Homo sapiens: one gene and its partners. The protein of the gene in region 1 purifies or fractionates together with the protein of each later gene. This does not show direct contact. Each region holds a gene or a part of one and is shown in the gene's direction. Other genes may lie near its edges.

Region 1 (8,446 bases):
TTGGATAAATTAGAATTTTATTTACTCAAGTTTATTGTTGGGCTTTTAGGTCATGGCCAATTTTTTGTTTTTATAGAGTACTAAGATAAATTTTCTTATATATACATCTTTGTATAAATTCCTAAGGTTGGTATTGGTACCTTAGGATAAATTCCTGAGAGTGGTATTAGGATGTCATAGGTTATGTACTTTTTAAATCTTGTAATAGATTGCCAGATTGAACTAAAGGTTATATCATTTTATGTATCTCCTAGTAACTATAGAGTATTAGAATTTTAAAATAAGTGGGTTTCTCCCCCCATATCTTTACAAACGTATTTTTTTCATCTTTGACCACTTTATAAACAGCACATGTCAGTCTTTTGGCATTTCCTTTATTTCTAAATAAGGTTAATCTCTTAAACAAGGTTTGCTGACCATTCTGTTTTCTTCTTTTGTGAAGTAGTTGATAGTGTAATTTTCTCTATTGAAAGATACATTTGTATAATGACAAGTAAGTACATACTAATATTTTGTAGTGATAGCAGAGTATTATTTATGCTTTTATATAAAATAATTTTTAGGGGGCATTTTGGACGTTTAATTCATTGTATAGTTGCATGTTACGTTATTTGTTAGTGAGATAACTGAAAGTTTTTGTATATTTAATATGATGTTCTTTTAAATTTTTTTAAATTCCCTTTAGGGCCATTCTCTTAGTGATGGGCTGGAGGAAGTCCAAAAAGCAGAAATGAAAGCTTACATGGAATTAGTCAACAATATGCTGTTGACTGCAGAGGTAAAATACTAGATGATACGGCTTGAAAATAAGCTTTTTCTCTCATTCTCATAAAATATAATCTTTCTTATGGGTTAAAGTTATTGAGAAATGGGAAAATAGTCAAGTAATTCTAGAGTTGAGTTGGCTACCTAAATTATTTGATTATTACCTTTGAACAAGTTACCTGACATTTTCAGTTCTAGTTTTTCTGTTTATAAAAAGGAGTGATTCTTGCCTACTCATTATTTTACTTTGGCCTTTTGAAATTTGCTTAAATAATATCTGTAAAACACTTTAATGGTATTTAGACATGTATTGTGTGAATAAAAAATATTTTTATAACGTACCATCATTACATTTTTGTGGATAGCAGCTAAGAAAAACAAACCGCTACATGTGTGACTTATGAAATTAGCTTATAAAAAATTGCCTTGGCAAAAAATAACTTTCTTTATCCTTTTCCTCTTTGGTATTCTAAAGTTTAGTGACTGTTCTTTTGTTCCTAGCTGTATCTTCAGTGGTGTGATGAAGCTACAGTAGGGGAGGTGAGTGGTTCTGTAACATTTATCTTAATTAAAATTTAATGAGAAAACACTTTTGCTCAGAATCGCAAGTCCCTGCTCATAAATGAAACATTGTGGTTTATACCATTAGTGATATAGTTTTTCACTTACTTTAATTTTGCTTGCACATAACATTTTAGGGAAGCTATGTGTCATTGTTTGATATAACGGGTTGCAAAGTACATAAAAGTTTATATATTTTTAAAGGGAATGGCTTAAAATTTTAATTTTTTAGATTGCAGGATGTGTATTTTTTTCAGATTGCTCTATTTATGTTCTCTGAAAATATATTTCTTTTAGAATTCTATTTGTAAAAACGGGCATTGTTTTTAGGAAGGATCACCTTTTTTACAAAATCTTTTTACTTTAGATCACTCATGCTAGGTATGGATCTCCTTACCCTTGGCCTCTGAATCATATTTTGGCCTATCAAAAACAGTGGGAAGTCAAACGTAAGATGAAAGCTATTGGATGGGGAAAGAAGACTCTGGACCAGGTCAGTTCAGGTTGAAGTTGACAAAACCCTCAACTTTTATGCATTAAAAGAATCATTCTTTATATTGATACTCCTTTAAAAAAATATATATAAGATTTGCAAGAAAACCATTTCCTGTGATTTTCACTAACATGAAGTAATTTTATTTCTAAAAAATCATACATGCTTGATGTAAAGCAAACAATGCAATGCAGATATGTGTAAAAAAGCAATAAAACTTGCCTGAAATCTCATCACCTAGAAAATACCACCCTTAACTATTTGGAGAGCCTTCTTCTAGATGTTTCTTAGTAACATTTTCTCAAATGGGATCATTATGCCTGCTACTGTATAACCTGAGGGTTTTTTTTTTTTTTTAATTGAACAATACATTGTGGGCACCTTTTATGTAACTAAATATAGATCTGCAGCATCAGGGCTTAAAAAAAAAGCCCTGTTAAATACAGTACTTTGTCCGTCTGTCTGTCTATCTATCTGTCTATCTGTCTATCTATCTGTCTATCTATATTTTTGCTACTAAAGTAGCAAAACTTAAAAATACTTATCTTGTCCACAAGCATCATTAAGTTAATTAATGCCCGTCTTTTCCAAGGCTACCCTTAATACTAGCCAGCCATCTCACTGATGTGTGCCATTGGCTACAAGGGGGTTTCAGTAAATGAATAGGGATAGAATAAATAAAAATCTATCTCCACTAGTGGGAAAATAACTCAAATGCTTTTACTCATAGTGGGTCAATGTTGTTACCTTTATTAAGCAGATTTTTTGGTATATGCAAAGCCATTTGAATATATGGATTCAGGAAGACACTTTTGTTCTTGACAAAATCCTTATAAGTAACTTAAATGTACTTGTATTTTGAAGGACATTCACTGAGAATTTCTTCCTATTTCTTGTATACAAAGTATTATATATATATACTTATATAGAAAGTATTTCTTATAAGTATTTCTTATATAGAAAGTATTTCTTATAAGTATTTCTTATATAGAAAGTATTATATATATATGTGGTCTATGGTCTTATTAAAATATATTATAAAAGGTTAACTTAAATTTATATTTTTGTTATAAACTGTGATACAAGTTACGTTTTAGATACTTTTTATTGTTTTGCTAATTGAAATACTTTTCCTTGGGGTTCATTGCCTGTGTTAGGTCTTAGAGGATGTAGACCAGTGCTGTCAAGCTCTCTCTCAAAGACTGGGAACACAACCGTATTTCTTCAATAAGCAGTAAGAAATTTTACTTTTTTAAAGTTAATTTTCTGTACTGTTAGGTTGCAAATTTCTTTTTTTCATAAAAGAATTGCTTTTTCAAGAAAATATTTAGCTATTTTTATAATTTTTGTACTCAAATATTTTTGTGGCACTTTACTCTCAGGCACAGTGCTAGGCTCTAGGAGACTAAGATTTCTAAAATATGGTCCTTATCATTAAGAATTTCTCTTAAAGGCAGTCATGTAAATCAATCATTGTATGATAAGGTTTTAATGAGGTAGTTCAAGGTGCTATACATGGAACTACAAAATCTTAACAAAATTCTAAACTTGTACTATTAAACATGAAGGAAAGTAAGTTACTATTAATGTAACTATGGTTTTCTATATAGAATGATAGCTGGAGGATTAGAAGAGTCAATAAAACTAAATATTAAAAAATATTGTTTGATGGACAAGCACTATTATGAACTTATCTTTTAAAATGTTAATGAAAATATTTGTAAAACACAGAAATTAATATAAAGGATATAGGTTAAATATATGTGTATATATGTAAGTTGAATAATGTTTCATTAATAGATTTGCTTTTGCAGTTTTGAAAAGACTCTAATGAAGGCAAAGAATGAATTTTCCGTTGTTAAAAAATTACAATTTTAATATATCAGAATCAGCTGTCCTGTGATCCAGTGTAAGATGGGCTTAAAGCATTTTAATCTCAAAACTTTCCCTAGAAAGTCTGACCTTTTCTTGACATTTTAATAAAAATTATTTGATTTTTAGATTAATAATTTCTAAAAGGCTTTATTTGCTATTATGTGTTATATCGTCATAAGCATTCCTCTTCTATAACCATATCAAACATATTTGGGTAAAGATAATATTTGTAGTAAAAATGGCTATGATGATAGTTTGGAAATATTTAAGTTATATTAATCTATAACACAAGTAATATATACATATATAATTGATATTAAAATCTGGGTTCTGTTGATCTTTGAAGCAGAAAAATCTTCAGAATTCAAACTGTGAAATTCTGGTGGGTAAAGCTTCTACAACTCTGTTCCTGTTTCTAGTGATGTTTGCTCTACAGATTCTATTTTTCAGTCCCTAACACAAGAGAAATGTATCCAAATGTCAATATTACGTGATTTCTTTTCTTTCTAACAGAGGAATTCTTAGGAATTGAAAAGCTCAGAAGGGGTGTGTTTTATTGAAATGCATTATTCTATTTTAGTTTTGTTATGCACACTGTCTTTAGAGGAGGCCAGGAGAATAGATCTAACTTACTTTTCTTCTCAGTTAAACTCATTGTCATTGTGTTAGTAACCAGAGTTTGGCATGTGACTCAGTGGAAATATCAAGATATCATTTTTCTTCATAAGGGCACAATTACATTTACACTTGTGATGAAAACTTCTAACTTAGAACAGTTCAAACACCAAAGCCTTGCTTTTGAGGAACTATTTAATTGATATTATGATGTAGAGTTTTGACATAATTTTCCTTTGCGTGATACTTAGATAAACATTTTCCCTAAAAATAAGATTAAAGATAGAAGAGATTTGATTTTTAATTTTATTCGATCATTTAATTAATACTAAAATGCAAATAAAGTACATTTAGAAAAAAGTAACTGGTATTTCACTTCCTTGTGCCAACATTTTTCTCATTCCTTTATCTGTAGCAGGAGTCATTACTTTGTGAGATACTATGTTGAATAGAGCTGTGGCCTAAGTCAGGTATTATACTGCAAGTCAGAGGGTCTGAATTCTATTCTTGGCTCTGACATATCTCTAAGTTACTCTAATTTCTCTATGTGTATGCCAGTCCTAAAATTAGAATTAACCCCCTACAATTAGAATTAATCCCCTAAAATTAGAATTAACTTTCCTTCTAGCTCAACTACTGGGGATGTTGGGAGGACTCGTGAAAGAAACCAAATACCGTTACTTGATGAGAGAAAAGGAAAAGGGTAGTTAAGGGAGATCTCACAGAAAGAATAATAATTGGGAAAAGAGGCCAAAAAGCAAGGGGCTTGATTTACAAAACTTGGGTGACAGCCCTAAAGATAAGTGATTAGGATGTAAAGAAAAGATAACGTAGATTATTTCTAGTACTATAAAGAGATGAAAAGTTAATGGGAAAGAACAATTAGGAAACACTCAGACAAAATTAATGCTTTTGAAAGCATTAATATAGATGATACTATGAAGGTATCAGAGAGAAATAAATGTGAAATAATGAATAAGCAAAGCAAAAAATATGAGTGCCAGAAAAATCTTAAATGGAAAATGTTAGGAAAATGTTGAATTTTACTGAGTGCCAGAAAAATCTTAAATGGAAAATGTTATGAAAACGTTGAATTTTACTGTTTTTGTTTTGATATTCAAATGAAAAAATAGTAGATAACCAACAGGAATGTGGAAAGAATAATAATGTAAGAAGGCATCAAATTTCTTAGGACTTTAAAAATATATTTGTCACCCTGGAATATTTTTCTAATAAAAAGTCTATAAAGATAAATGCAATAATATATGAAACATCTTAGAGCTCATAGGAGGGGAATTGCTATCTATATTTGAATTATAATCACAAACTATTTGGTAAGCAGAAGGGTAGAAAGTTGTGTTTTCTCTTCACGTGATATAGCAAGATAATTAAAATTGGAGGTATATGAAGATCTTGACTTGATTAAATAGTTCAGTAGAAATACTGGATAAAATATGTTACTTGTCTTTTTGTTAAGTCAGGTTTATTGATGTGTAATTTACATCTAGTAAAATTGGCACTTTTATGCGTGTAGTTCTATGAATTTTAACAAAGGCATACAGTTGTGTAACTGTCACCTATCAACTAAAATATTATTTGTACTTCTTAAAAAGACTTGTTGGAATCAGTAATTTATATATGTCAGAGTCAGTGTAAGGAGTTGCTCAAATTTGGAAAAATTACAAAAAATATGCTTTAAAGGTTAGTGTGTGTGGATATATACAGTCATGCCCTGTATGGCAACCTTTCAGTCTGTGATGGACCAAATATATGATGATGGTCCCTTGAGATTGTAATATATTTTTACTTACCTTTTCTGTGTTTAGATATGTTTAAATACACAAGTATTTGTGTACCATAAATACACATTATCATTGTGTTACAGTTGCCTACAGTATTCTGTTTGGCAATGTGCTGTATAGGTTTGTAGCCTATTAGCAATAGGGTGTACCATATACTCTAGGTGTATAGCACCATCTAGGTTTGTGTAAGTAGACTCTATGATGTTCACACAGTGAGAAAATTGCCAAACAGTGCATTTCTCAGAATGTATTCCTGTTAAGCAACACACAACTGTATGTGCTTTGGTTTAATCTGTTGAATTCTACTTCTGTTGATGTTCTAAAGTAACTTGCCACAAAGTTGCTGTCTTTATGTAAAATCAGATCAGTTTTTATATGCTCATGCCCATATATAATTCAGTACCTCTGGAGTTATGTGGATATATATTTGCAACAAACCACTTCAGGGGTACTTCTGGAGCACTCTCATTTGAGCATACATTGATAGTTGAACTCTTTCAGAGCCTTCATTTATTAATAAAGGGTGCCCATCTATACTACTGGAAGTTGCATCAGAGAATATATGCACCTTTTTTAGGCTCTAGTACAAGAAGTATAGGGTAGCTGGCACTAAACAAGGATTAGGAAAATAAGTTCTAAATTGGTAAGATAAGATGTACCTCTTAAGAAATATGTTTAAGGATGTGGAAGAATTGGTGTTTGTATTATTCTCACCAAGTGCCTCAGCTCAGCTCCCCATTTATCCACTCTACATCCTTGGTTTTTTGCAGGGATCTATTCATTATTGGTTCATTCCTGTGATGATAAGATTATGGTGCTGTTGAGTCTAAGGACCCTTGAGATTTTTTTTTTTAAAACTATACTGTTGGCTACCCATTTAAACATGGCCATAGATTGCACATTTGACTTTGATTAACACTTCATGAATGTCAAAAGAGTGGAAGGCTTTCAAAGAATGTAAGTTACTACTATTGAGAAAATTAAATATTCCACACATCTTAGGATGCTTTCTTTTTTAATTCATGTATTTATTCGGCAAGTGCTACTTCAGTTCCTTAGATACTGTGCTAAGAACTGGGAATATAAAGATATATACAGCATTGCCTTTGAAGAGCTTGGAGTGTAGTGAGGGAAACAGTTAAGTGAACACAGTTATAATATGGTATGAGAAGTGTGTCACCTTTTTATTGGTTCATTCAACACAAATTTATTGCACAATTCCTGCTTTGTGCAAGGAATTGTTCTAGGTATTGGGGTTACAGCAGGAACCAAGTAGGTGAGGTCCTTTCTCTACAGGACTTTCTGGTAGAGGAGATGCACAATAAGCAAAAAAAAAATTATATGGTATTAATTATCAAATGTAGAATTAAAAAAGGACCACATGATAAGGAGTGACTACATGTCCACTTTAATTTGAGTGGTCTGAGGAGACTTTAAGATGTGCCATTTAAACCTTATTCTAAAAAATAAGGAGCCAGTGTGAAGTCAGAGGAAGAGTATTTTAGGCAGCAGGAATAGTTATAGTCAAGGTTCCCTAATTGGCTTGAGTTTGTTACGTTCAAATGCAAGAAACAAGGCCAGTTTGGGTTGTATGCTATGAATGGTAGGATATGAGGCTAAAGAGGCAGGCAGAGGCCAGATTATCAAGGCTCTGTGTGCTTAGTGTAAGGAGTTTGGCATTTTAGTATAAGTAGAACAGAAATCCATTAGAATATTTTGTGCTTGGAGTTGGTATGATCTGCTGACATTAGTCATTCTGACCATGGTATGGAGAATGAGTAGAAGCAGTAAGACACTTTAGGAGGCTATCTCAGTGGTCTAGGTGACAGATGATGGTAGGTTACACTGTGAAATCATAATGAAGAATAAGTGGTGGCATTCAGGGCATATTTTGGAGGTAGTGTCTCACCAGACTTGCTAATGGATATAGGAGGGTGAAAGAAAGAACTCAAGAGTAGCCCCTAAATTTTTGGCCTGAACAGCTGGTTGGATAGTGGTGCCTTTTATTTTGGGAAGTTTGGGGGACAAGCAGGTTTGGGATACTGTAAATTACTGCTATTGAGAAAATAAAGTATCCCACACATCTTAGTCAAGATGCTCCACATCCTGCTCCACAGATACTCCACATTGAAGTGGAGATGTTATGTAGGCATTTGAATGTATGAATCCAGAGCTCAGGGGAGACATTAGGACCAGAGATAAATATTTAGGAGTCAGTGGCATCAAGATGGTATTTAAAGCCATGCATCTCTAGGAGACTACTTATCAATAGGGTTCAAGGCCACATAGCTAGTAAGTGATAGTATTGGAGTTCAAATTTGGATTTTTACCAACC
Region 2 (6,493 bases), on another chromosome or scaffold:
GTTATTTATACAAGAGTCTTTAAGTCATTCTAAATATTTTTTCTTGAAAGTTTTAACTAAGTGAGAAATAAGGTAGTCTTCAAAATCTTGGTCATCTGTTTGGATGAGGGAAAGTACCTCATGAGTTGCACATTACTTCTACAACAGGGTGTGTGTGTGTGTGTTTGTGTGTGTCAGTCATCTTCAAAGGCAGATTATTAGATTCCAGCAATCTGAAATCTATTATTCCAGCAGTCTGAAACCTAAATATGTTATATTGGAAATCATGACTGTGAGACTTTATTGTCCTCTAGGATGGATGTATATTGGAGAAGGGTGGTTAGCACATTCATCAGACATCTGCTTATGCTGTGGTCAAGGCCAGTCATTTTTAATTTATATCAGATTTATATCAGACCCTCCAAAAAGTATTTGAAATATATTACAGTTATAACGTACAAGTACATTACATGTATATTACAAGTATATTACATGTAAAACAGGACAATTTAAAAATTTTAAATTTTAAAGAATTAAAAATTTTAAAAATTTAAATTAAAAAAATTAAAAATTTATAGAACCATATCAACACTGACAGATTCTAAAATTAAGTAGTAAATTTAACTCCAAGTTTCTCCATGGGCAAAGTCAAAAGATAATGCTAGGTTATGTCAATTTTTCTTTTCAACAAAACTGCTAATGTCTATTAGGAAGAAAAATGTGTTTAAAGTTTTACAGGAACGTGGAGCTCATGTTCTTCTGATATGTAGACTTTGATAAAGAAGCATACTGTAATGTTTTATGAACTGAAATTTTAATCAAAAGAGGTCATTTTAGAATAACAAGTATTATTCTTTTTTAGTAGAGGGAATGACTGTCAATATGATTTATTTGTTTTTGTGTCATCCCTACTTTGAACTGCTGTTAGCCTTACATTCTCACTATAGTCCATAATGCTTCCAGATCACCTTTTCTAAGATGCAACATGTGAGTTTAGTGAGAGTTTATATGTTGGGTTACTTAGTTGAGCTATTTATGTATAAGTAAATGAGATGACAGGAAGCTGTAACTGAGCACAAAGTACTTTAGGGAGCAGCCACACATACAGGAAGCTCTTAGAAAAGAACTTTTTTTTTTTTTTGAGACAGAGTTTCACTCTTGTTGCCCAGGCTGGAGTGCAGTAGCGCAGTCTCGGCTCACTGCAACCTCTACCTCCTGGGTTCAAGCAAGTCTCCTGTCTCAGCCTCCCAAGTAGCTGGGATTACAGGCATGTGCCACCATGCCCAGCTAATTTTGTTTTTTTTTTAGTCGAGACGGGGTTTCACCATGTTGCTCAGGCTGGTCTTGAACTCCTGACCTCAAGTGATTCACCTGCCTCGGCCTCCCAAAGTGCTGGGATTACAGGCGTGAGCCACTGCGCCCGGCCAAAAAGAACATTTTGTCAATCTGAACAGAGCACAGAACATTTTTTCAGACTGAACAGACTGTTGGACCAGCCTGTCATGATATGTTTTAGATAAAGTTTGAGTGAGTTCATTGGGATAAATGGTCCACAATCTTAAACAGAATACTGTGAGCCAATGCCTTTTGGAAGTAATGGTGGAGGATAATATGATTAAAGGGAACATGCTTGTGTTTATTTTTGTTGGTAGTATATGATTAGAAAAACTAGATAATTCCCATAAGATGAAGATCTTCCATGAACAAACTACCATCAATCATCCATCAGATTGATTTTTTTTTTTTTTTTAAGTAACACTAAAGAAGCTGTAAAGAACATTGAAGGTGGTCATTCCTTCAAAACTGTGTTTTGACCACACAAGGTGGGCATTAACAAACCAAATTTCAACTTAAGTTTGTTTGTATTATATTGGGGGTGCTGCGAGACTGGAGATTTTATAAAAGCAAGCATTTTTATTTCCATTTATAATTTCTATTCAATATTGCTAGATATATTAACATGAAGGAATGGGGAAGCTTATTTCAATCAAAGCTAAAATTTTCAGAAGTCTGTAAAAATGGAAAAACACCATTGAAAGAGGCAGAAACAGGTAAGGGGGATAGTATCTTAGAAAACCTGTTGGTTAAGGCAGCTGCATGTGATAAAAGTGGTACTTGAACTTGGTAGTGTTTCCTTAGAACCTCCTCCAAAAATATGCATTTACCAGGCTTGTTACAATTTTTTGACAGTTTTTCATCAACTGTCAAAAACTTCAACCCTTTTAAAACCTAGATATAAATGCTTACATGTAAAGAAAGGAAGCTAAGCAGTGGGTACCTGGGATCTCTCTGAACTATTTTTATAACTTCTTGTGAGTCTTAAGTATTTCAAAATAAAAGTGGTTTTAAAGTAAATTCATAGATTAAATGTATCATTATCTATATATAAACCATGATTTAAAACTTTAATTTTCTAAACATAGTATTCAACTTAGTTGAATAAATATATGATAGAAGTTAAATAGAATTTTTATTTCATTCTTAAGAAAAACTCATGTTTGTAACAAATGATATCTAAAGATCTATTTTGCCTTACCAGAAAAGAAAAAAAAAACCCTAAAACCAAAAACTCCTTTTCCCTAGGAAGTCAAAAATGCTGTGATTTAAAATATCTAATTATATTTTTTTCTTTCTATGGTAGTGGGGTTTACTTCTGAGGATAAAATATTTTGAAAAAGCTCTGTCCCTTGACATGGTAGTTCTCCCGTGCCTTGTACTTGTTCTCTCTCCATATGCACAGTGTGACAAGATGCTCACCTTTAATGAAGAAGGTGTAGCTTTTCGTTTTAAGCTGTAATTGTCTTTGTCTTGATTTGGCTATTTTTATAACTGAAATCCTGAGCAACAGAGATAATTTGGGTGGTAATGATCATCTTTTGTATATGTTCTTGATGTTAAGAAATATTTTTTGCTGCCATTCAGCTTTGTGGAATTTATGTTTACTTTTCAATATTTTCATATTTCTTAACCAGATTTTAAAGAAATTTGTTGTTAGTTACGTGAAATCAAAGGTCAGGTCAGTAAGCCCATTATCCTCAAACTTGAAGTTTCGTTGGATGTTCAAAATGCTAATTTTTGCAGAGATATAAGGATAAATTAGTTTTAGTTTGTGTTCTTAAGGGTTTGCAAAATAATTTGGCTCCCAAACTCTTGTTGGGGTGTAGTGTTTGCTAGGAGCCCAGGATACCTGCCCTGGACTTAAATTGTGATTGAAGTGGAGAGGTACTCTAGGAATTTAAAAAGACACAAAATTATTTTTTTCCAGACTAGTGTGCCATGGATTTCTGATAAGAATTAACATTCTTGAACAAAGGTATCAGAAAGGGTAACTCGAGTTGAAGGTTTGTGAATAGAAGGGGAAATGTGATAGAAGATTATTCAGAACAAAATAAGTAGACAAAATAACAAAAGACAGGAAAATAAGTCTCTTTGTATCCTTATTAATCATTTGAAATTATGCTATAATATTTTTTAAAACTCACCTGTTTGGTTCTGGGTGAAGCAGTTCCTGAAGGAGTGTTTTGTCAGAATATATTGTTAGGAGAATAGAGGGTTCTGTGGCCAAGTAAGTTTGGGAAATAGTGGGTTAGACAAAGTTGAGTTACTGTTGGCCTTTCAGACCTTTGATACGCTAATGTGCATTTTAAATCTCCAAGAAGCACCTCTATTTTATACATCATTTCCCTAATTTATTTTAATATGGATTTCTTGTTTTTGTTTTCTTGAGACGGAGTCTTGGTCTTGTCACCCAGGCTGGAGTGCAGTGGCACGATCTCGGCTCACTACAACCTCCGCCTCCCAGGTTCAAGCGATTCTCCTGCCTCAGCCTCCCAATTTACTGGGATTACAGGCACCTGCCACCACGCCCAGCTAATTTTTGTATTTTTAGTAGAGATGGGGTTTCACCATGTTGACCAGGCTGATTTTGAACTCCTGACCTCAGGTGATTCTGCCCGCCTCACCCTCCCACAGTGCTGGAATTATAGGTATGAGCCACTGTCCCCGGCCAGATTTTTTTAAAAGTAGGTATCTTGTGGGATTTATGTTCTGAGAGATACACCTAAGGAAATGCTGCCCTACAGTGTTTTTGCTAGTTCATACTCATTACAAAGGTTTCTTGTTGTTGGGTGCCCCTCTAGCCAGTGGTAGTAAAATGGGAAGAGACAGGTCAAGACTCCCTTGGACCATGGCATTGAGAGAGGGATGGCTGTCGGCATAGATATGTTGGTTATTTAGGCATTTGTGAGGGAGGCCCCTGGCTCTTCCAGCCTGTTTCCTTAGGATCCCAGTTGGCCGGGAACAGCTGTACAAGGGTCTGCTGAACTGGTGGTTTCAGCAGACTACCCAGTTCCTAAGCATCCATGAGACAGAGGGAACCAACTTGTATTTCCAGAACAATTTTCCAAACCTTTTCTGGCTGTACTTTAAAAGTGCCAAAAAGGCAATGGGTGTTTATGACACTAAAGTCACATACAAGCTAGTATGATACATACATCATAGAAAGCTTATAGTTGCTCAGTGACAAAGCAAAGGAAGTTTAATATTTTCCAGTTTTGTTCATTACCGAAGACAGTCTACGGTTCATAGTTTTCACTAAATTCTAAGCAGATTCTATATCCTAAAACATTTAAACCTCACTAGGCCTGCAATTTTGAGAGGGTTAGCTAAATATGTTTGGTATCACTTCAGAGTCTAAAACCAGATTACTAATCGTGTGTAAGGAGGCATTTTGTGTGTCTTTGCAATGTATACAATTGGATTATTTGGAACACCATTTTGAATGTGTATTTGAGAGAAAGCTCGCCTGTGGGTTTTGAGTTGTGGTGTAATGGTGAACATGTAGCCACGTGAAAGGCCGTTGGATCTTTGTTCTGATTCTTCAGTCGTCTTCTTGCAAATTCAGAGAAATGTCTTTTAATCATTTCGTTTACATATCCCAGATCCTTGGAAATCATGAAAAATAACTTGCCAGAGTTTGCATCAGCCCTCAGTAAGTCATGAACCATAGAGAAGGTCATGGGGCCATTTATTCTTTGGACCACTGGCTACTTCTGAAGTTCTGGCTTCCTTCTCTCTAGGAGGAGTCGTGTATTCAAGCTTTTAAGTTAAATGCATAAAAATGAGTTTTACTTCTCTTCTGACTTGATTTTTAATTTTATGAAATGGGAAATAATGTTTTTCCATTTTTCTGTTCATTTTGAAGTGGGAATTTGAGGTGTTTGTAATGTCATGTTACTGTTCTGAAAGATTGACAGTAAAGAAGACAAGAAATATATGTATGTAGTATGCATATTAGTTTTGTCCCACCAAGCCTATCTTTGAATGGCAAACATTTTAAAAACATCTGTTCTAGTTGCACAACTACTCTAGCTTCTTTATAAAGTAAACAATCTTAAAGTAAGCAATGTTGGCCATAATTTCAATATTCTAGCCTTGCCGAGTGTGAATATATTTTACTCAGAGACTATGTACAAATACACTAAAGTGGTGATGGTGATCAATATTGTAAAGAATTTATTCTGATAAATGAGAAACTGGATATAATGTCAAAATAGCTATTTTCTCAATAAAAATCTCAAATCTCCTGACTGCTTATGAATTCTCGATTTAATGTTATTTATTCTTTGAGGTAAATCTTTTCATCGCGAAGAATTTTTTGCTGGTTGAATGTGGTTGTTCAGGGCTGGGACTGAGCTATAGACATAGTGGGTTTTTAAAAAATGTCCATTCTTTTTTTTTTTTTTTGAGACAGAGTTTTGCTCTTATCACCCAGGCTGGAGTGCAATGGTGTGAACTCGGCTCACTGCAACCTTCGCCACCTGGGTTCAAGCAATTCTCCTGCCTTAGCCTCCCAAGTAGCTGGGATTACAGGCACCTGCCACCTTACCCGGCTAAATTTTTTTTTTTTTTTTTTGGTATTTTTTTTTTTTTTTTTAAGTAGAGACGGGGTTTCACCATGTTGGCCAGGCTGGTCTTGAACTCCTGACCTCAGGTGATCCACCCGTCTCGGTCTCCCAGAGTGCTGGGATTACAGGCGTGAGCCACCGTGCCTGGCCAGAAAATGTCCATTCTTTCTGTTATGTGTTGAGACCACTTGTGCTCTGGCCACTCCAGGCTAAGGGAGGTTAGAGGCCTGTTCTCTAGGCCACTGGTTTGTGTAGGACCTCAGATGCTCACACAACTTTGCAGGGTTATAGTTCTCTCATCCCTTCAGCTCTGTAAGTTTCTTGTAAATTATACCTTTTGCTCACCCAGATAGTATAGTGATAGTCCATTGTAATTGAATGGAAGATTTAACTGAGAAAAATAATGTAATTTTAGTTGGAGGGAAGATATTCAGGTTTTTTTACTGCTTCGTTTATGGGACAAAGTATATGGTTCTAGAGAACCCTGTCATTTATAGCTGTAGGTTAAATAAGGGCAAGTTCCCTGAGAGAATGGGTGTCTTTGCTAGTAGATTTTTTTAAAATTGAGTTGTAATTTACATATAGTAAAATGCATAGGCCTTCCAAGT
Region 3 (8,446 bases), on another chromosome or scaffold:
CATCCACATAGATCCCAGGACCCCTGAGGTTCATTCCTCACTGCTGACCTCCCTCAGGACACCCAACCGGGGCTTCTAGTCCCTCAGGGGCCTGGTGCATTCCCACAGGGTCCACTCTGAAATGGGGGGTGCTGTCCAGTCGTGTGCTGGTAAATTTCTAACTGGCTCTGCCCTTCACCTCCCTCAAAGGGCCTGGTTTGTAGCACTGGCCAGTTTCTATGGTGGATATACCATTGTAGCCAATTCCAAACTGCTGTCATGAAGTCAACCAGCACATGTTTCCTGAAAATTTAAAAATGAGCTCTTAGCCAGTTTCAGCCACCATTTGGATGCCCAGATCTTTTTGTTCAGCCTGTGTTCCCTGAAGTGCTGGCTTCAGGAAGTTCTCTGAAGTGTTCCCTCTTGAGTGCTGGCTCCGTGTCCCCACCTATGGAGAAAGATGTTCCACGTTGCTCCTGCTGTCACTTCGCACCCAGCCTGGTGTCCTGTTTCCACCCTCAGCATGTGGCTAAGTGCTTACTGGGGACTTGGGGCTTTAGATGTTTCTCCTCATTCTCCCATACACTGACTCACTCAGGGTCTTAGTTGCTACAGCCGCAAAAAAGGAGCAAATGGGCAAACTTGGGAAGGTTTCTCCCTTTTACAATGTGGGATTTTTGTATTTACCTACAATCAAACGGATCTGCTGCCTTCTTAGAATAATTTTCTTAATTTCCTCCCTTTCTTTGTCATTCTCACGCAAATTATTCCACGAACTTGAGATCAAAACTCCTTTTCTTCAACTCTGTGCTCTCGTTCATTCCCTGCAGTCAGGGCAGCCACCAGACGAGCCTTTCATCCCACCTCCCACGCAGGCCGTGGTGATGTTTCCTTGCTCACAAACTTTCAGCGTCTCCTCGGGATGGTTGGACCTCTCCCTTTGCCTGACTTCCAAGCTTCCTTCTGTGCTGGCTTCATCCAAGTCCTTCCACCCCACGCCTTCCAAAGTGAACCTATGGCGGCAGGCGCACGGTCTCTTCCTGTCTGTGCCTCTTCCCCGGTGCCCTGCCCTAGGCTATGAAGCTTCTGCCTTCTGCAGACATCGCTGCCGTCCCGCCCATGGGATGGAGCTTCTCCTGTGTCTAAGTCTGCGCCTGCCTTAGGGAACCCATCCCTCTCTTGGCTGCTTCCGGCCACTGGAATCCCTCCTTGTGCTGTTCTCATTGACTTCCTGTCTGGGCTGCTTCTCTTTGTTTTTGGTGTTCTCTCCCTTTTTATTTGTAACAGCTTTATTGAGATGTGATTCACATGCTGTACAATACATCCATTTAAGGCATGTGATTTAATAGTTTTTAGTGTATTCACAGGTATGTGTGACCATTGCCACAATCATTTTTAGAACATTTTCATCACCCCCACCCCCCACCCTCCCCACCAAATCCTACTTACCCTGTAGCTATCAGTCCCCACCCCGGTCCCTGCATTTCCCCAAGCCCAAGGCAGTCACGAATCTACTTTTGTGTCTAGAGATTTGCCTGTTGTGGAATACGCCACACAGTGTGGCCTTTTGGGTCTGACTCCTTTCACTTAGCGTAGTGCTTTCAAGGTTTCTCCATGTTATAATGTGTCAGTAGTTCATTCCCTTTTATGGCTGAATAATACTCCATTGTATAGATATACTTCATTTTACTTATCCATTCATTGGTTGATGAACATTTGGGTCCTTTCCATTTTTTGGCTATTACAGATAATGCTGATGTGAACACATGTTTTCATTTGTCTTTGGTGTACAATGAGAAGTGGAATTGCCATATCAAGTGGTAACTCTCCATATCCTCGCAAATACTTATTATAATTTGACTTTAAAAATTTATTTATTTATTTAGAAACAGAGCCTCACCTGTTGTCCAGGCTGGAGTGCAGTGGCACAGTCATAGCTCGCTGTAACCATGACTTCCTGGGCTCAAGCAATCCTTTTGCCTCAGCCTCCCAAGAAGCTAGGACTGTAGGCATGTGGCACCACACCTGGCTAATTAAAAAAAAATTTTTGTTTTTTAGAGAAAGGGCCTCACTGTGTTGCCCAGGCTGGTCTCAAACTCCTGGTCTCAAGTGATCCTTTTGCCTCGGCCCTCCAAAATGCTAAGATTACAGATGCGAGCCACTATGGCTGACCCTTACACGTTGACCTTTTAATTATAGCCATCCTCGTGGGTGTGATGTGGTACCTTATTGTGGTTTAAACCCGTGTTTCTCTAGAGACTAATGATGTTGAGCATCTTTTCCTGTGCTTATTGACCATTTGTATATCTTCTTTGGAAAAATTTCTATTTAGATCCTTTGCCCATTTTTAAGTAGGATTATTTTTCATTTTATTATTCAATTCTGGAAGGTGTTTATATGTTTTAGATAAAAGTTCCTTATCAGGTATATGATTTGTACATATTTTCTCCCATTCTGTGGGTTGTCTTTTCAGTTGCCCTATGGTGTCATTTGGTACTCAAAACTTTAAAATTTTGAAAAAGTCCAATTATTTATTTATTTCTTTCATTGCTCATGCTTTTGGTGTCATCTCTAAGAACGTATTGCCAAAGCCAAGGTCATAATGATTTAGCCCTCTGTTTTCTAATAAGAGTTTTATAGTTTTAGCTCTTAATGTTTAGGTCTCGGATCTGTTTTGTATTAATTCTTGTATATGGTGTAAGGTAGGTGTGCAACTATATTATTTTGCAAGGGATATCCAGTTGTCCCAGCATCATTGGTTGAAGAGACCGCTCTTTCCCCACTGAACCATCTTGGCACCCTTGTTGAAATCAACTGACCATAGAGATAAAGGTTTCTTTATGGCCTCCTTATTCCCTTCCATTGATATGTTTGGTCTTCTCTTGTCATATGTCATTAACTAGTTATTTGATTGTATATATCTTAAATACTACAGGGACTCTATTATTATTATTATTATTACAATCTTTTGTTACTAAGGAAATGTTCATGGTAAAAAAATTAAGATGCAAAAGTTCCAAAAGTGAAAATCCTGCCCCAGCTGCTCCTGTCCCCACTTTCAGGACCTCATCCTCTGAGTACTTTGCTAAGCAGTTTTGTAGATTTCTCCTTGGAGCAGATCTGTATATGTGTCTTATGTGCATGCATGTGAAATCCAAATGCAGTTCACACTTGCGGATATGTGTATATGCATATATTCAAATTCAGCAACATTTATATTTGTATGTCTGCATTTTTTTTTGCAAAATTGAGATGTGCAAAAAATTCTATGACTTTTTAAACAATCAGCAGTATATCTCATGTGTTTTCCGTGACAGTGTATGTGTATTCTACCTTGTTCTTTCTTAATGGTTCCATAAAATTCTATAGGATGTATATGCCGAAATTTTCTCAGTCAGTTCTCTATCTGTTGGATGTTTATGTGATTTCCTTTTCTTTTTTCCCTATTTCCTCCGGTGTCACAGTGAGTGTCCTTCCACATGCCTCTGTGTACATGGGGGAGTAGTTTTCTCAGTGAGATATTCTGGAAGTGGAGTTGCTGATCATGTCTTTTGTCTTACAGTAATTTTTAATGTCTTTCCCTCCGCTGTGTTTTATGATGCCTTGCACATATTAGGCACTTAATAAATATTTACTAAAGTGAACTCTTAAGGATTTTTATCCTGGATTGATCCCCAGCTTGCTGTTTCATCTCAGTAAACTGTTTTATGACACCCTTAGGCCTATTTCACATCCTCTAAATGAATGAGAGTTTTGGTTATCCAGTCTTCATTAGGGGAACTGAGGTGAAATTAGTCAAGCAGTATTTGATTATCTACTGTATGTGTGGCACTGGAGGTGTACAGAGATGAGTGAGATTCAGGCTTAGCCCTCAAGGTATTTAAAAACCATCAGGATAGGCAGGCAGGAGGTGTAGTACTTCTCTGAGAAGCACATGTGTGTTGTCAGGGGGCTCAGAGGAAGGGAAAAGGTGATACTGGCACACCTGGGAGATGGTGCAGACGTGGCTCCAGATACCACAGTACAGTGGACATCAAAATAAAGCAAATCATGAACTTTTTGGTTTCCTAGTGTATATAAGAGTTGTGTTTACACTATATTGTAGTCTCAAGTGTACACTAACATTATGCCTAAAAAGTGTATATACCTTAATTAGAAATACTTTATTGGCAAAATATGCTAATGATCATCTGAGCCTTTAGTGAGTCATAATCTTTTTGCTGGTGGGGGGTCTTGCCTCCTTGTTGATGGCTGCTGACTGATCAGGATGGTGGTTGGCTGTGGCAGTTTTGTAAAATAAGACAACAATGAAGTTTGCCACATCGATCAACTCTTCCTTTCACAAAAGATTTCTCTGTAGCATACGATGCTGTTTGATAGCATTTAACCCATAGTGGAGCTCCTTTCAAGATCGGAGTCAGTTCTCTAAAACCCTGCTGCTACTCTATCAACTAAGTTTATGATCCTATTCTAAATCCTTTGTTGTCATTTCAGCAGTGTTCACAGCATCTTCACCAGGAGCAGATTCCATCTCAAGAAACCACTTTCTTTCCTCATCCATAAGAAGCAACTCCTCATCTGTTCAAATTTGATCCTGAGATTGCAGCAATTCAGTCACATCCTCAGGCTCCACTTCTAATTCTACTTCTCTTGCTGTTTCCACAACATCTGCAGTGACTTCTCCATTGAAGTCTTGAACCCCTCAGAGTCATCCATGAGGGTTGGAATCTACTTCTTTTAGACTCCTATTAATATTGATTTTTTGACCTCTTCCCATGAATCATGAATGTTCTTAATGGCATCAGAATAGTGAGTCCTTTCCTTGGAGTTCTCAGTTTACTTTTCCCAGGTCCATCAGAGGAGTCACTATGTATGGCAGCTCTAAGCTTATAAATGAATTTCTTAAATAATAAGACTTGAAAGTAAAAATTACTCCTTGATCCATGGGCTACAGAATGGATGCTGTGTTAGGAGGCATGAAAATAACATTCATCTTGTACATCTCCATCAGAGCTTTTGGGTGACCAGGTGCATTGTCAAGGAGCAGTAATATTTTGAATGGATTCTTTTTTGCTGAGCAGTAGGTCTCAACAGTGGGCTTAAAGTATTCAGTAAAACATGTTGTAAACAGATGTTCTGTCATCTAGACTCTGTTGTTCCATTTCTAGAGCACTGGCAGAGTAGATTGAATATCATTCTTAAAGGCCCTAGAGTTTTCAGAAGGCTAAATGAACATTGGCTTCCATTAAAAGTCACCAACTGCATTACCCCCTAACAAGAGAGTCAGCCTGTCCTTTGAAGGTTTGAAGCCAGGCATTGATTTCTCCCCTCTAGCTATGAAAGTCTTAGATGGCATCTTTTCCCAGTAGAAGACTGTTCTGTTTAGTATTGCTACCTTCATCAATGATCTTACATAGATCTTCTGGATAACTTGCTGCAGCCTCTCCATCAGCACTTGCTGCTTCACCTTGCACTTTTATGTTATGGAGATGGTGTCTTTACTTAAGTCTTATGAACCAACCTTGGCTCACTTCAGTCTTTTCTTCTGCAGCTTCCTCACCTCTCTCAGCCTTGACTGAATTGAAAAGAGAGAGAGCCTTGGGCTTGATTAGGCTTTTGCTTAAGGGAATACGGTGGCTGGTTTGATCTTCTATCCAGACCACTAAAACTTTTTCCATATCAGCAGTGAGTCCGTTTCACTTTCTTACCATTCATGTGTTCACAGGAGTAGCACATGTAACTTCTTTCAACAACTTTTCCTAACTTGGCTAACTGTTAGGTGCAACAGGCCTAGCTCTCGGCCTATCTTAGCTTTCGACATGCCTTCCTCACTAAGCTTAATCATTTGTAGTTTTTAATTTAAAGTGAGAGACATGGGACTTTTCATTTGAACACTTAGAGGCCATTGCAGGGTTATTAATTGGCCTAATTTTGTTGTGTCTCAGGGGATAGAAAGGCCCAAGGAGAGGGAGAGAGACAGGGGTCGGGGAATGGCTCATTGCTGGAGCCATCAGAACACAACAGCATTTATCGGTTAAGTTCGCCGTCTTACATGGACAATGTTCTCAGTGTCCCAAAACAATTACAAGAGTAACATGAAATGTCACTGATCACAGATCACTGTAACAGATATAACAATGAAAAAGCTTCAAGTATCATGAGAATTATCAAAACATGACTGAGAGACACAAAGTACATGCTGTTGGAAAGACAGCACCAGTAGACTTGCCTGATGCAGGCTTGCCACAGACCTTCAACTTGTAAAAAAAAAAATGTGTTATCTGCAAAGTGGAATAAAGAGAAATGTGATAGAAGGAGGTACCTGTGCTTCACTTGCATGCTGTCGAGGAGCAGCCTTCCCTGGAGAAGGGGACATTGAGATACCTCCAAAGAAAGGATATGATTTGGATGGGTGGAGATGTCCCAGAGAGGGAGGTGGTGGGCTGGAGGTGGTTCAGAGGGAAGAGCATGCCTGAATTCAGAAGAGGTGAGAAAAGTGAGACATCAGGTTCCCCTGAGGACTGGGTGTGTGGAGGGAAGTGGTGGGGGTAAAGCCGCAAAGCCAGCAGGGGACATATATTGGTAGGCTTGGGAATCCGGATGGGCTCAGCATGGACCTGGTAGGCACTGGGCCACCACGAGAGGAGTTTTAGTAGAATTGCTTTGTTGGAGTTGGTCTTGAGGAAGCAGCGCATTCAGTAAATCTGGGGCCTGAATAAAGAGGAGGCTTTGCTTCCAGGCACTTCTGTGACATAACTTTTTCTTTTCCCTCTTTTCTGCTTCCTTAGCTGTCTGAAAACGTGGTGAACCGCATGAAGGAGCCCAGCTCTCCACCCCCTGCTCCCACATCTTCTACCTTTGGCCTTCAAGATGGCAACTTGAGAGCCCCTCACAAAGGTATGGGGATTGTGACAGTTCTGTGGAGTGTGGAGAGACAGTGAAAGGAGTGATGGGTGCTCACCCGAGCCCACCTGATGGCGCACAGGGCTCAGGTTGGCTTCTGGATGACGTTAAGCAGCTCTGTCTGGTAAGGGCTTTCCGGAAGAGCATGGCTTTCTGGGAGTGATGGGGCTGTCATCAGAGCTGCCGGGATTCGGGTCGGACCACCTTCCCTCTGTGCCACTTTCTCCATGTGGGAATTGAGGCAGAAGGACCTGAGTTGACAGCTCAGGAAAGAAGTTGCCTTTAAGGCTCCTCAGAGGCGGCATAGCCATGACTCAGCTTCAGCCACTCTAGCCTAACTCCCAAGTCAAAGAATGATGTGGATTCACGTGAACAGGGCCAAGTATAGGAGAATTCCGTCAGTGATTTAGGCGCCTACCGCAGCAGCCCTCACCTGAGCCTCAGGCCGAGAGCTCCTGTCCTGGCCCTTGGAATGGTTCCCTCTGGGCTTCTAGGAGGGGTCCTAGGAGTTCCTCTTCCTGGCCCACTGTGAAGCTGGTGCTCAAGCCGGGCTCAAAGCTGATTTGTTCCCTACTGTATTGTGCGTGTTGCAAATGAAGAAATTTGTGCTTTCCCCAAATAACGACTTGTAGCAAACACAAGGAAATAAAATTTTAAGGAAAAAAGTTCTAAGGCATACAAATGTTAAAATATTACAAAATAAAAAAGTCCTTGGAGCAACTGCTCAAAACATACTTGTTTTTGAGAACTTGGGTCTGTCTATCAGATTCCGTAACTCAATTAAAAAAAAAAAAAGATTGGCTGGAGGCAGCATGCCACCACGGAAGGACCGACTGTTCAGGTGGATAACCACCCACTAGATTGTTCTTCTTGGGCCTGGTCTCGCGTTACAGTTGCCTTTTCTACTCATCTTCCCTGTTGGGTTGAAAGAGTTTAGAATATGAGAGCTGTATCCTGCCCACTTAGTGTTTACTGAAGGCCACCCAGAACCAAGTCCTGTGCCCTGTGCCAAGACACAGTGATAGGTGGGCAGGGACCCTCTCTCATGGCACACCTGGCTCTGGTTATGGAGACTGATGAGTTATGTGTCATGTTGTGATGCAACACTGGAATCTGTACCAGGCTCACGGGAGAAGAGGGACTGTGAAAGGCAGGAGGAATGGTGGTGGGTGGGCACTGCGAATGGGCAGATTGCAGGAGCGGAGGTCCGGCGACAGGGTGCATCCCAGCCTGCTCGGGGGCCTAGAAGCATTGCCCAGGAGCCAGTCAGCACCTGGATTTGGACCCACCCCAAGATCTTTCTGAATATCTACCACTGTAGGGGATGTGTGAGATTCCCGAAAACCCTCCAAGAAGCCCTTGTCCTTTACTAATAGGGCTCACTTACTCCCCACGCTGGCTCTAACTAACTGATGAGAAGGGCTTAAGAGGAGTCTAACTTGACCCAATGCACTTTAACAAACTGGATTAACTCGAAAGAGGGAGAAAGTGATGATAAAAGCGAAAATTGCCATAATATATAATACTACACATCAGTTTCAGCTTTAGAAGAAATAAGAAGCAT
Region 4 (8,446 bases), on another chromosome or scaffold:
ACGTAGAACAGCAAGGTGAACATGAATTAACCAGGTGGAAACCAAGGAACAGGTATTCTCAGCCTGGGCTGAGATGTCTTGTGGGCCTAGAGGGCCCGGTGAGAGTGGGTGGGGCCAGCTCCCACGGGGCCTTGAATGCCAGGCTGAGGGCATCAGTCTGGGCTGATAAGAAGGTTCATATTGGGGTGTTTGAATGGGGGTCCATAGTCCTGGTGCCAGCCTGGCAAGAAGGAAGGGGATGTAGGGCGTGGTGAAGGCTTGCCAGGTCTGTGCCAGAGCGAGCCATCTTCCTTTGTCCTGTAAAAACAGTTCAGGGACTTGTTTATCGGGAGCTGGCACTGAGATGGTTTCCCTTCTTGTGCCTTTTCTGGCTTCCAAGTGCTGCCTGTTTGTGTGCACAACTCGCAACCACAGGAAGCACAGGACCCCCAAGCCGCAGAGCCTGGCTTCAGCCTCCGGACCGTGCGGCCTGTGCCAGCTGACTCACGGCTCATGGTGACTCATGGCTCTGCAGCAGCGGAGGCTCTGCCTGGTTAGCGGCTTGCAGGGCAGGAGGAAGCCACTACAGGATGCTGGCCACGGTCCACCTACAGCCCTTGCCCCTGGGTCTTGGACCATACATTGCAGAACTCTTTTTTTTTTTTTTTTTTTGAGACAGAGTCTCATTCTGTCACCCAAGCTGGAGTGCAGTGGTGCAATCTTGGCTCACTGCAACCTCTGCCTCCTGGGTTCAAGGAATTCTTCTGCCTTAGCCTCCTGAGTAGCTGGCTCAGCCTTCTGAGTAGCTGGGAATACAGGCGTGTGCCAGCATGACCAGCTAATTTTTTTTGTATTTTTAGTAGAGATGGGGTTTCACCATGTTGCCCAGGCTGGTCTTGAACTCCTGACCTCATGATCCATCTGCCTCGGCCTCCCAAAGTGCTGGGATTATAGGCGTGAGCCACCGCGTCCGGCCTGCAGAACTCTTTAGTGAGCACCTACTGGGTGCTCAGCCAAGTGGGCAATGCTGGAGAGGACAGCCTTGGGCGTGCTTTTGGACTGGCAGGGAGTAGACTGCTGTAGCTGATTACAGTGAATTTCCATGTTAATTAGAGAGGCAGAACGTCTGAATATCAAGAGGTGGTCCTCAACATGGCTGTGCCTGGGCCTGGATCTTGATCTGTCACTTCATATCTGGTTGCAGTCTTGGGCAGGTACCTTATCTTCTCACTGTGCCTTAGTTTCCCTACCTGAAAATGGGGCTGGTGGTTGTCCTTATGTTGCAAAGCTGTTGGAAGGATGAAGGTTGTAGGTGACGTAGGGCTCACAGAGTGCCAGACATATGGGATTGCTCTGTGAATTTTGGCTAATTCATCTTAGTTCTTTAACGAGAGGGCTGCAGGCGCTGGACCCAGACTGCCCAGCTGGGCCTGTCCATGTGGCCTTGGCAGGTCACTTGACGTCCCTGTGCTCAGCTTCCTCACCATGATGGGGCTGCTGGCAAGTCCGCATAGGCTGCTGTGGGACTCAGTGCAGGTGAGGGCTGAGCCAGCCTTTCCAGCCCCCAGCCATCTGCCTCCCTGCGCGGCCCACGGTGAGTGGCTTCAGCCAGATGATGGAGTGGCTGATGGCCTCAATGTGGGCATCATCAGGGGCCCTGTGAACCAGGATGGCCCCCCTATTGTTCTCTGGAGGGCAGGTATCTCTGGGGTTAAGGATACGTTTGTGGGTTTGCTTGGTGAATGCCAGCCCGCACCCCTACACTGTGAGCCCCTGGAGGATGGATCTGCCCATCACCGTGGTCCCCAGCCCCGCACAGGGCGAGCGTACTGAGACGGGCTGTTCTCACCTGGGCCTCAGTCTGTAGGGTCTGCACAGGGCCCCACGGAGCATGGCTGCTTTTGGGGTGGGTCCACATTCTGGGGTACAGAAAGACCAGCCAGGAGGAAGTGGCAACTGGAAAGAGACATGACAAAGTAAAACAGTCTGTTGAGTCTGTGCCTCAAGGAGTGAACCCAAGAGGGGGCCCCACTGTGTTCAACATGATGACACTGTTTTTGTTTTTGTTTTTGGTTTTTTCTTTGAGACAGAGTCTCACTGTTGCCTGGGCTGGAGTGCAGTGGCGCACTCTCGGCTCACTGCAACCTCCGCCTCCCAGGTTAAACGATTCACCTGCCTTGGCCTCCCAAAGTGCTGGGATGACAGGCGTGAGCCACCGCGCCCAGCCTTCATTTCTTTTTAGCACTGAATAATATTCGTTGTATGGATAAACCAGAGTTTATTTATCCATTTACATTTTTTGTGAGAAAATATATGGAAACATAACATTTACCTTCTTACCCATTTTTTCAGTGTACACTTCAGTGATACTAAATACACTCACAGTGTTGTGTAGTCATCACCACTGGCCATTTCCAGAACTTCTTTATCATCCCAAACAGAAATTTTGTACCCGTTAAACAATAACTCCCCTTTCTCCTTCTGCCCACACCTCCTGGTAATCTGTATTCTATTTTCTGTCTCTATGAATTTGACCCCTCTAAGTACTTCATATAATTGGAATCATATAATATTTGTCCGTTTGTGCCTTGTTTATTGCACTTAGCATAATGTTTTCAAGGTTCGTCCATGTTGTAACATCCACGTATCATAATTTCCTTCCTTTTTAGGGCTGAGTAATATTCCATTGTACATAGGTATATACCACATTTTGATAATTCATTCGTCTTTTGGTGAACATTTGCACTATTTCCATCTTTTGGCTATTTTGAATAGTGCTGCTATGAAAACCAGTGTGCAAGTATCCATTTGAGTTCCTGCATTTATTTATTTATTTATTTATTTATTTGAGACAGAGTCTCACTTTGTTGCCCAGGCTGGAGTACAGTGGTGTGATCTTGGCTTAGTGCAACCTCCGCCTCCTGGGTTCAAGTGATTCTCGTGCCTCAGCCCCCTGAGTAGCTGGCACTACAGGCGAGTGCCACCACGCCTGGCTAGCTTTTTGTATTTTTAGTAGAGACGGGGCTTCGCCATGTTGGCCATGCTGGTCTTGAGCTTCTGACCCCAAGCGATCTGCCCACCTCAGCCTCCCAAAGTGCTGGGATGACAGGTGTGAGCCACCACCCTCGACTGAGTTCCTGCTTTTTGTTTTCTAGGGTACATACCTAGAAGTAGAATTTCTGGATCACACGGTAATTCTTTTTTTTTTTTTTGAGACGGAGTCTCACTGTCGCCCAGGCTGGAGTGCAGTGGCATGATCTTGGCTCACTGCAACCTCTACCGTCCGGGTTGAAGCGATTCTCCTGCCTCAGCCTCCCAAGTAGCTGGGATTACAGGTACCCGCCATCACACCCAGCTAATTTTTGTATTTTTAGTAGAGACTGTGTTTCACCATGTTAGTCAGGATGGTCTCGATCTCCTGACTGCATGATCTGCCTGCCTCTGCCTCCCAAAGTGCTGGGATTACAGGTGTGAGCCACCGTGCCGGCCATCACAGGATAATTCTATGTTTAGATTTTTGAGGACCTGCCATACTGTTTTTTTCCACAGTGGCTGCACTATTTTACATTTTCACCACTAATGCCAAAGAGTTTGAATTTCTCCATATCCTCACCAACATTTGTTATATTAATATATAGCTATCCTAATGAGTACGAAGTGATATCTCATTGTGGTTTTTATTTGAATTTCCTTAATGACTAATGATGAGCATTTTTTTTTTTTTTTTAATTTGAGACCAAGTCTCGCTCTGTTTCCCAGACTGGAGTGCAGTGGCGCCATCTCGGCTAACTGCAACTTCCACCTCCTGGGTTCAAGCAATTCTCCTGCCTCAGCCTCCCAAGTAGTTGGGATTACAGGCACGCACCACCATGCCCGACTAATTTTTGTATTTTTAGTAGAGACAGGGTTTCTCCATGTTGGCCAGGCTGGTCTCGAACCCCTGACCTTAGGTGACCTCAGGTCATCTGCTCCCCTTAGCCTCCCAAAGTGCTGGGATTACAGGTGTGAGCCACTGCACCTGGCCTGATGAGCATTTTTTTGTGTGCTTGATGGCTAGTTGTATATTTTCTTTAGAGAAATGTCTATTCAAGTTCTTTGCCTATTTTTGAATTGGGTTCTCTGTGTCTTTTGCTGTTCAGTTGTAGGAGTTCTTTATGGAGTAAGGATACTAATCCCTTATGAGATATATGCATTGCAAATATTTCTTCCATTTATGTGAACTGTTTTTTCACTTTCTTTTTTTCCACTCTTTTAATTAAAAATAGGGTTTAATTCTAGACTCTCTTATTCTATGCCAGTGACCCATATGTGTGTCTTTATGATAGTACCACATTGTTTTCATTATTGTATATTTTTACACTAAGTTTGGAAAGCAGGAAATATGAATCCTCCAACCCTGTTGTTGTTTTTTTTTTTTTTTAAGATTTTTGTTGTTGGCTATACAGGTATCTTGAAATTCTATATGAGTTTTGGGGTGGGTTTTTCTATTTCTGCAAAAAACACTTAAGATTTTGATAGGGATTGCATCGAATCTGTAGATTGCTCTGGGTAGTGCTTGCAGCAATGTTTTGTGGCTTTCAGTGTACAAGATTTTTGCCTTCTTGATTAAATTTTTTCCTAAGTATTTTATTCTTTTCAATGCTATTATAAATTGAGTTGTTTTCTTAATTTTTGGATTGTTCATTGTTAGTATGTAGAGATGAAATATTTTTGTGTGTTGATTTTATATCTTGCAACCTTGCTGCATGCTTTTAATTAGCTCTAACTTTAAAGAAAAAGATTTTAGGGTTTTCTATATATAAAATCATGTCATCTGTGAACAGAGAAAATTTTACTTCTTCCTTTACAATTTGGATGCCTTTTATTCCCTTTTCCTTTTTTTGCCTAATTGCTCTAGTTAGGACTGCTAGTACTATGTTGAATAGAAGTGGTAAGAGCAGACATCTTTATCTTGTTCCTGATCTTAAGAAGCTTTCGGTCTTTCACCGTTAAGGTATGATGTTAGCTGTGGGCTTTTCATATAAAAATGTCCTTCAATATATGAGGTGGGATGGTTCCAGGAATCCCCTCAAAATAATCTGAGGATGTTCAAATCCCTTATATAAAGTGCTATAATATTTGCACCTATACACATCCTTCCATATATTTTAAATTATCTCTAGGTTACTTATAATACCTAACACAATGTAAATGCTATGTAAATCGTTGTTGTACTGTATTTTTAAAACTTGTATTTTTTTGGTTGTATTGTTATTTTGTATTGCTTTTCCCCAAATATTTTATATCTGCTGTTGATTTAATCCCTGGATATGGAAACTGCAGAGATAGAGTGCCAACTCTATGGCCTTTATCATGTTGATGAAATTTCCTTCTGTATTAGTCCATTTTGTGCTGCTATAACAGAACACTTGAAACTGGGGAATTTATAATGAGCAGAAATTTATAGGCTCATGCTTCTAGAGTTTTGGAAGTCCAAGATCAGGGAGCTAGCATCTGGTGAGGGTCTTCTTGCTGTGTTATCCCATGGTGGAAGGCAGAAGGGCTAGAGAGAATGAGAGGGAGCAAGAGAGGAAGAAAACAAATTTGAAACTTCAAGCCCTTTTATAATTGGCATTAATCCCTTCAAGACAGTAGAGCCCTCATGACCTACATACCTCCCATTAGGTTCTATCTCTCAGTACTGTTACTTTGAGGATTAGGTTTCCAATACATGCTTGTTGACACATTCAAACCATAGCATCTTCTAGACCTAATTAATTGAATATTTATATCAAGAAAGAATGATGACATTTATCAAATGCTTTTTCTATGTCAACTGAAATGGCCATGTATTTTTTCCTTCATTCTATTAATGTGGTATATTTCATTGATTGATTTTTGATTTGTACATGTTAAACCATCCTTGTATTCCAGGAATAAATCAATGTATACTTCTTTTAATATGCTGCTGAATTTGATTTGCTGGATTTTATTAATTTTTCCATCAATATTCATAAAGAGTATTGGTCTGTAGTGTTCTTTTCCATTTTTCTTTTTTCACAGAGACAAGGTCTTGCTGTATTGCCCAAGTGTGGTCTTGAATTCCTGGCATCAAGTGACTCTTCTGCCTCTGTCTCCCAAAGTGGTTTTCTTTTCTTGAAGTGACTTTGTCTGATTTTGGTATCAGGGTAAAGCTGACCTCATAGAATTAGTTATGAAGTGTTCTCTCGTCTTCAGTTTTTTTTGTAAGTTTGAGAAGGATTGGTATTAGTTCTTCTTTAAATGTATGGTAGAATTAACCAGCAAAGCTATATTAGTTCTTCTTTAAATATATGGTAGAATTAACCAGCAAAGCTATCTGGTCCTGAGCTTTTCTTTCTTGGGACATTTTTGATTACTGATTTAATCTTACTAGTTATTGGTCAGATTTTCTATTTCTTCACAGTTCCGTTTTGGTAGATTGTGTTTTTAGGAATGTTTTCATTTTATTTACGTTATCCAATTTATTGGTATACAAATGTTCATAGTATTCTCTTATATTCCTTTTTATTTCTGTAAAGTTCATGGTAATGTCCTACTTTTATTCCTGATACTAGTAATTTGAGTCTTCTTTTTCTTTGTCAGTCTAGCTAGTTTTGTCAGTTTTATTGATGTTATCAAAGAATCAACTTTGGTTTTCTTGATTTTTCTCCACTGTTTTTCGATTCTCTATTTCATTTGTCTTCACTCTAATCTTGATTATATCCTTCCTTCTGTGAGCTTTGGGTTTAGTTTGCTCTTCAAGCTCTCTGGTCTTTACTTTTTCCTTTTCTCATTCCTTAAGGTGTAATGTTAGGTTACTGATTTAAGATTTTTTTAATATATGCATTTGCAACTATAATTTTCCCTCTCAGCATTGTTTTTGCTGCATCCCTTAGGTTTTAGCGCGGTGTAAGGTGTGTGTGTGTGTGTGCACGCGCGTGTGTGTGTGCGTGTGTGTGTGTGTGTGTGTGTGTTTCTGCCTTTCTCATGTTACCTCCTAATTTACCTCATGATTTCTCTTTTGACCCATTGGTTTTTTGTTTGTTTGTTTGAGACAGAGTCTTGCTCTGTCACCCATGCTGGAGTGCAGTGGCACAAATTCAGCTCACTACAACCTCCACCTCCCAGGTTCAAGGATTTCTCGTGCCTCAGCCTCCCAGGTAGCTGGGATTACAAGCGTGCGCCAACATGCCCGGCTAAGTTTTGTATTTTTAGTAGAGATGGGGTTTTGCCATGTTGGCCAGGCTGGTCTCAAACTTCTGGCCTCAAGTGATCTGCCTGCCTTAGCTTCCCAAAGTGCTGTGATTACAGGTGTGAGCCACCATGCCTGGCCCCATTGGCTGTTTAATTTTCACATATTTGTGAGTTTTTTTAGTTTTCTATTATTGATTTCTGGTTTCATTCTATGTGATCAGAAAATATTTTTTATATGATTTCAACCTTTTTGAATATATTAAAGCTTATTTTGTGGCTACAAACTTGTTTTGTGGCCTATCTTGGGGAATGTTTCATGTGCACTTGATAAAAATATCTCTTCTTTATTGTGGTATGGAGTGTTCTGTGTATGTCTGCCAGGTATAATTGGCTTACGGTGTTGTTGAAGTCCTGTTTCCTCATTTATCTTCTGTCTAGTGGTTCTGTCTCTTACTGAAAGTGGTGTTTTGAAGTCTCCAAATATTATTATAGAGATATCTATTTCTCCCTTCAATTCTGCCAGTGTTTGCTTCATATATTTTGAAGCTCTGATATTTGGTGCATATATGTTTATAACTGTTACATATTATTGATGAATTTATCCTTTTATTAATACATAATGTACTTTTTAATCTCTTCTAATCGTTTTTGACTTATAGTCTATTTTGTCTGATATTAGTATAGTTACCTCATCTCTCTTTTGTTTACTATTTGTATGGGTTTTTTTTACATCCTTTCATTTTCAACTTCTTTGTGTCTTTAGATCTAAAGTGAGTCTTTTGTAGACAGCACTTAGTTGTATCATATTTTAAAAATCCACTCTGCCAATCTATGCCTTTTGATAGGAAAATTTGGCTGGGTGTGGTGGCTTACACCTGTATTCCCAGCACTTTGGGAGGCTGAGGTAGGCAGATCACCTGAGGTCAGGAGTTTGACACCAGCCTGGCCAACATGGTGAAACCCTGTCTCTACTAAAAAAAAAAAAAAAATACAAAAACCAGCTGGGTGTTGTGGCACATGCCTGTAATCCCAGGAAGAATTGCTTGAACCCAGGAGGCAGAGGTTGCAGTGAGCCGAGATTGGGCCACTGCACTCCAGCTTGGGTGACAGAGCAAGACTCTATCTCAAAAAAAAACAAAAAAAAAAAAACAAAGTTTAACCTATTTGCATTTGAAGTAATTGCTGATAAGGAATGTATTACTACTGCCATTTTGCTATTTGTTTCCTGTATGTCTTGTAGCTTTTTTGACCCTCATTTATTCTATTACTGCCT

The links.
Region 2: the proteins of MTX2 (region 1) and MTX3 purify together in Homo sapiens (affinity purification with mass spectrometry; 2 studies listed by BioGRID and IntAct, with this or other methods). This does not show direct contact.
Region 3: the proteins of MTX2 (region 1) and CHCHD6 purify together in Homo sapiens (co-immunoprecipitation; 4 studies listed by BioGRID and IntAct, with this or other methods). This does not show direct contact.
Region 4: the proteins of MTX2 (region 1) and CARD19 purify together in Homo sapiens (co-immunoprecipitation; 3 studies listed by BioGRID and IntAct, with this or other methods). This does not show direct contact.

Annotation. Positions count from the first base shown.
Region 1 is NC_000002.12:176,327,608-176,336,053, forward strand, and holds part of MTX2 (metaxin-2), read left to right. Parts: intron 1-685; coding exon 686-778; intron 779-1,266; coding exon 1,267-1,305; intron 1,306-1,693; coding exon 1,694-1,819; intron 1,820-2,976; coding exon 2,977-3,053; intron 3,054-8,446. UniProt on the Homo sapiens protein: Involved in transport of proteins into the mitochondrion.
Region 2 is NC_000005.10:79,975,801-79,982,293, reverse strand, and holds the end of MTX3 (metaxin-3), read left to right. Parts: 3' UTR 1-5,578; downstream 5,579-6,493.
Region 3 is NC_000003.12:126,720,311-126,728,756, forward strand, and holds part of CHCHD6 (MICOS complex subunit MIC25), read left to right. Parts: intron 1-6,767; coding exon 6,768-6,876; intron 6,877-8,446. UniProt on the Homo sapiens protein: Component of the MICOS complex, a large protein complex of the mitochondrial inner membrane that plays crucial roles in the maintenance of crista junctions, inner membrane architecture, and formation of contact sites to the outer membrane.
Region 4 is NC_000009.12:93,098,269-93,106,714, forward strand, and holds part of CARD19 (caspase recruitment domain-containing protein 19), read left to right. Parts: intron 1-8,446. UniProt on the Homo sapiens protein: Plays a role in inhibiting the effects of BCL10-induced activation of NF-kappa-B. May inhibit the phosphorylation of BCL10 in a CARD-dependent manner.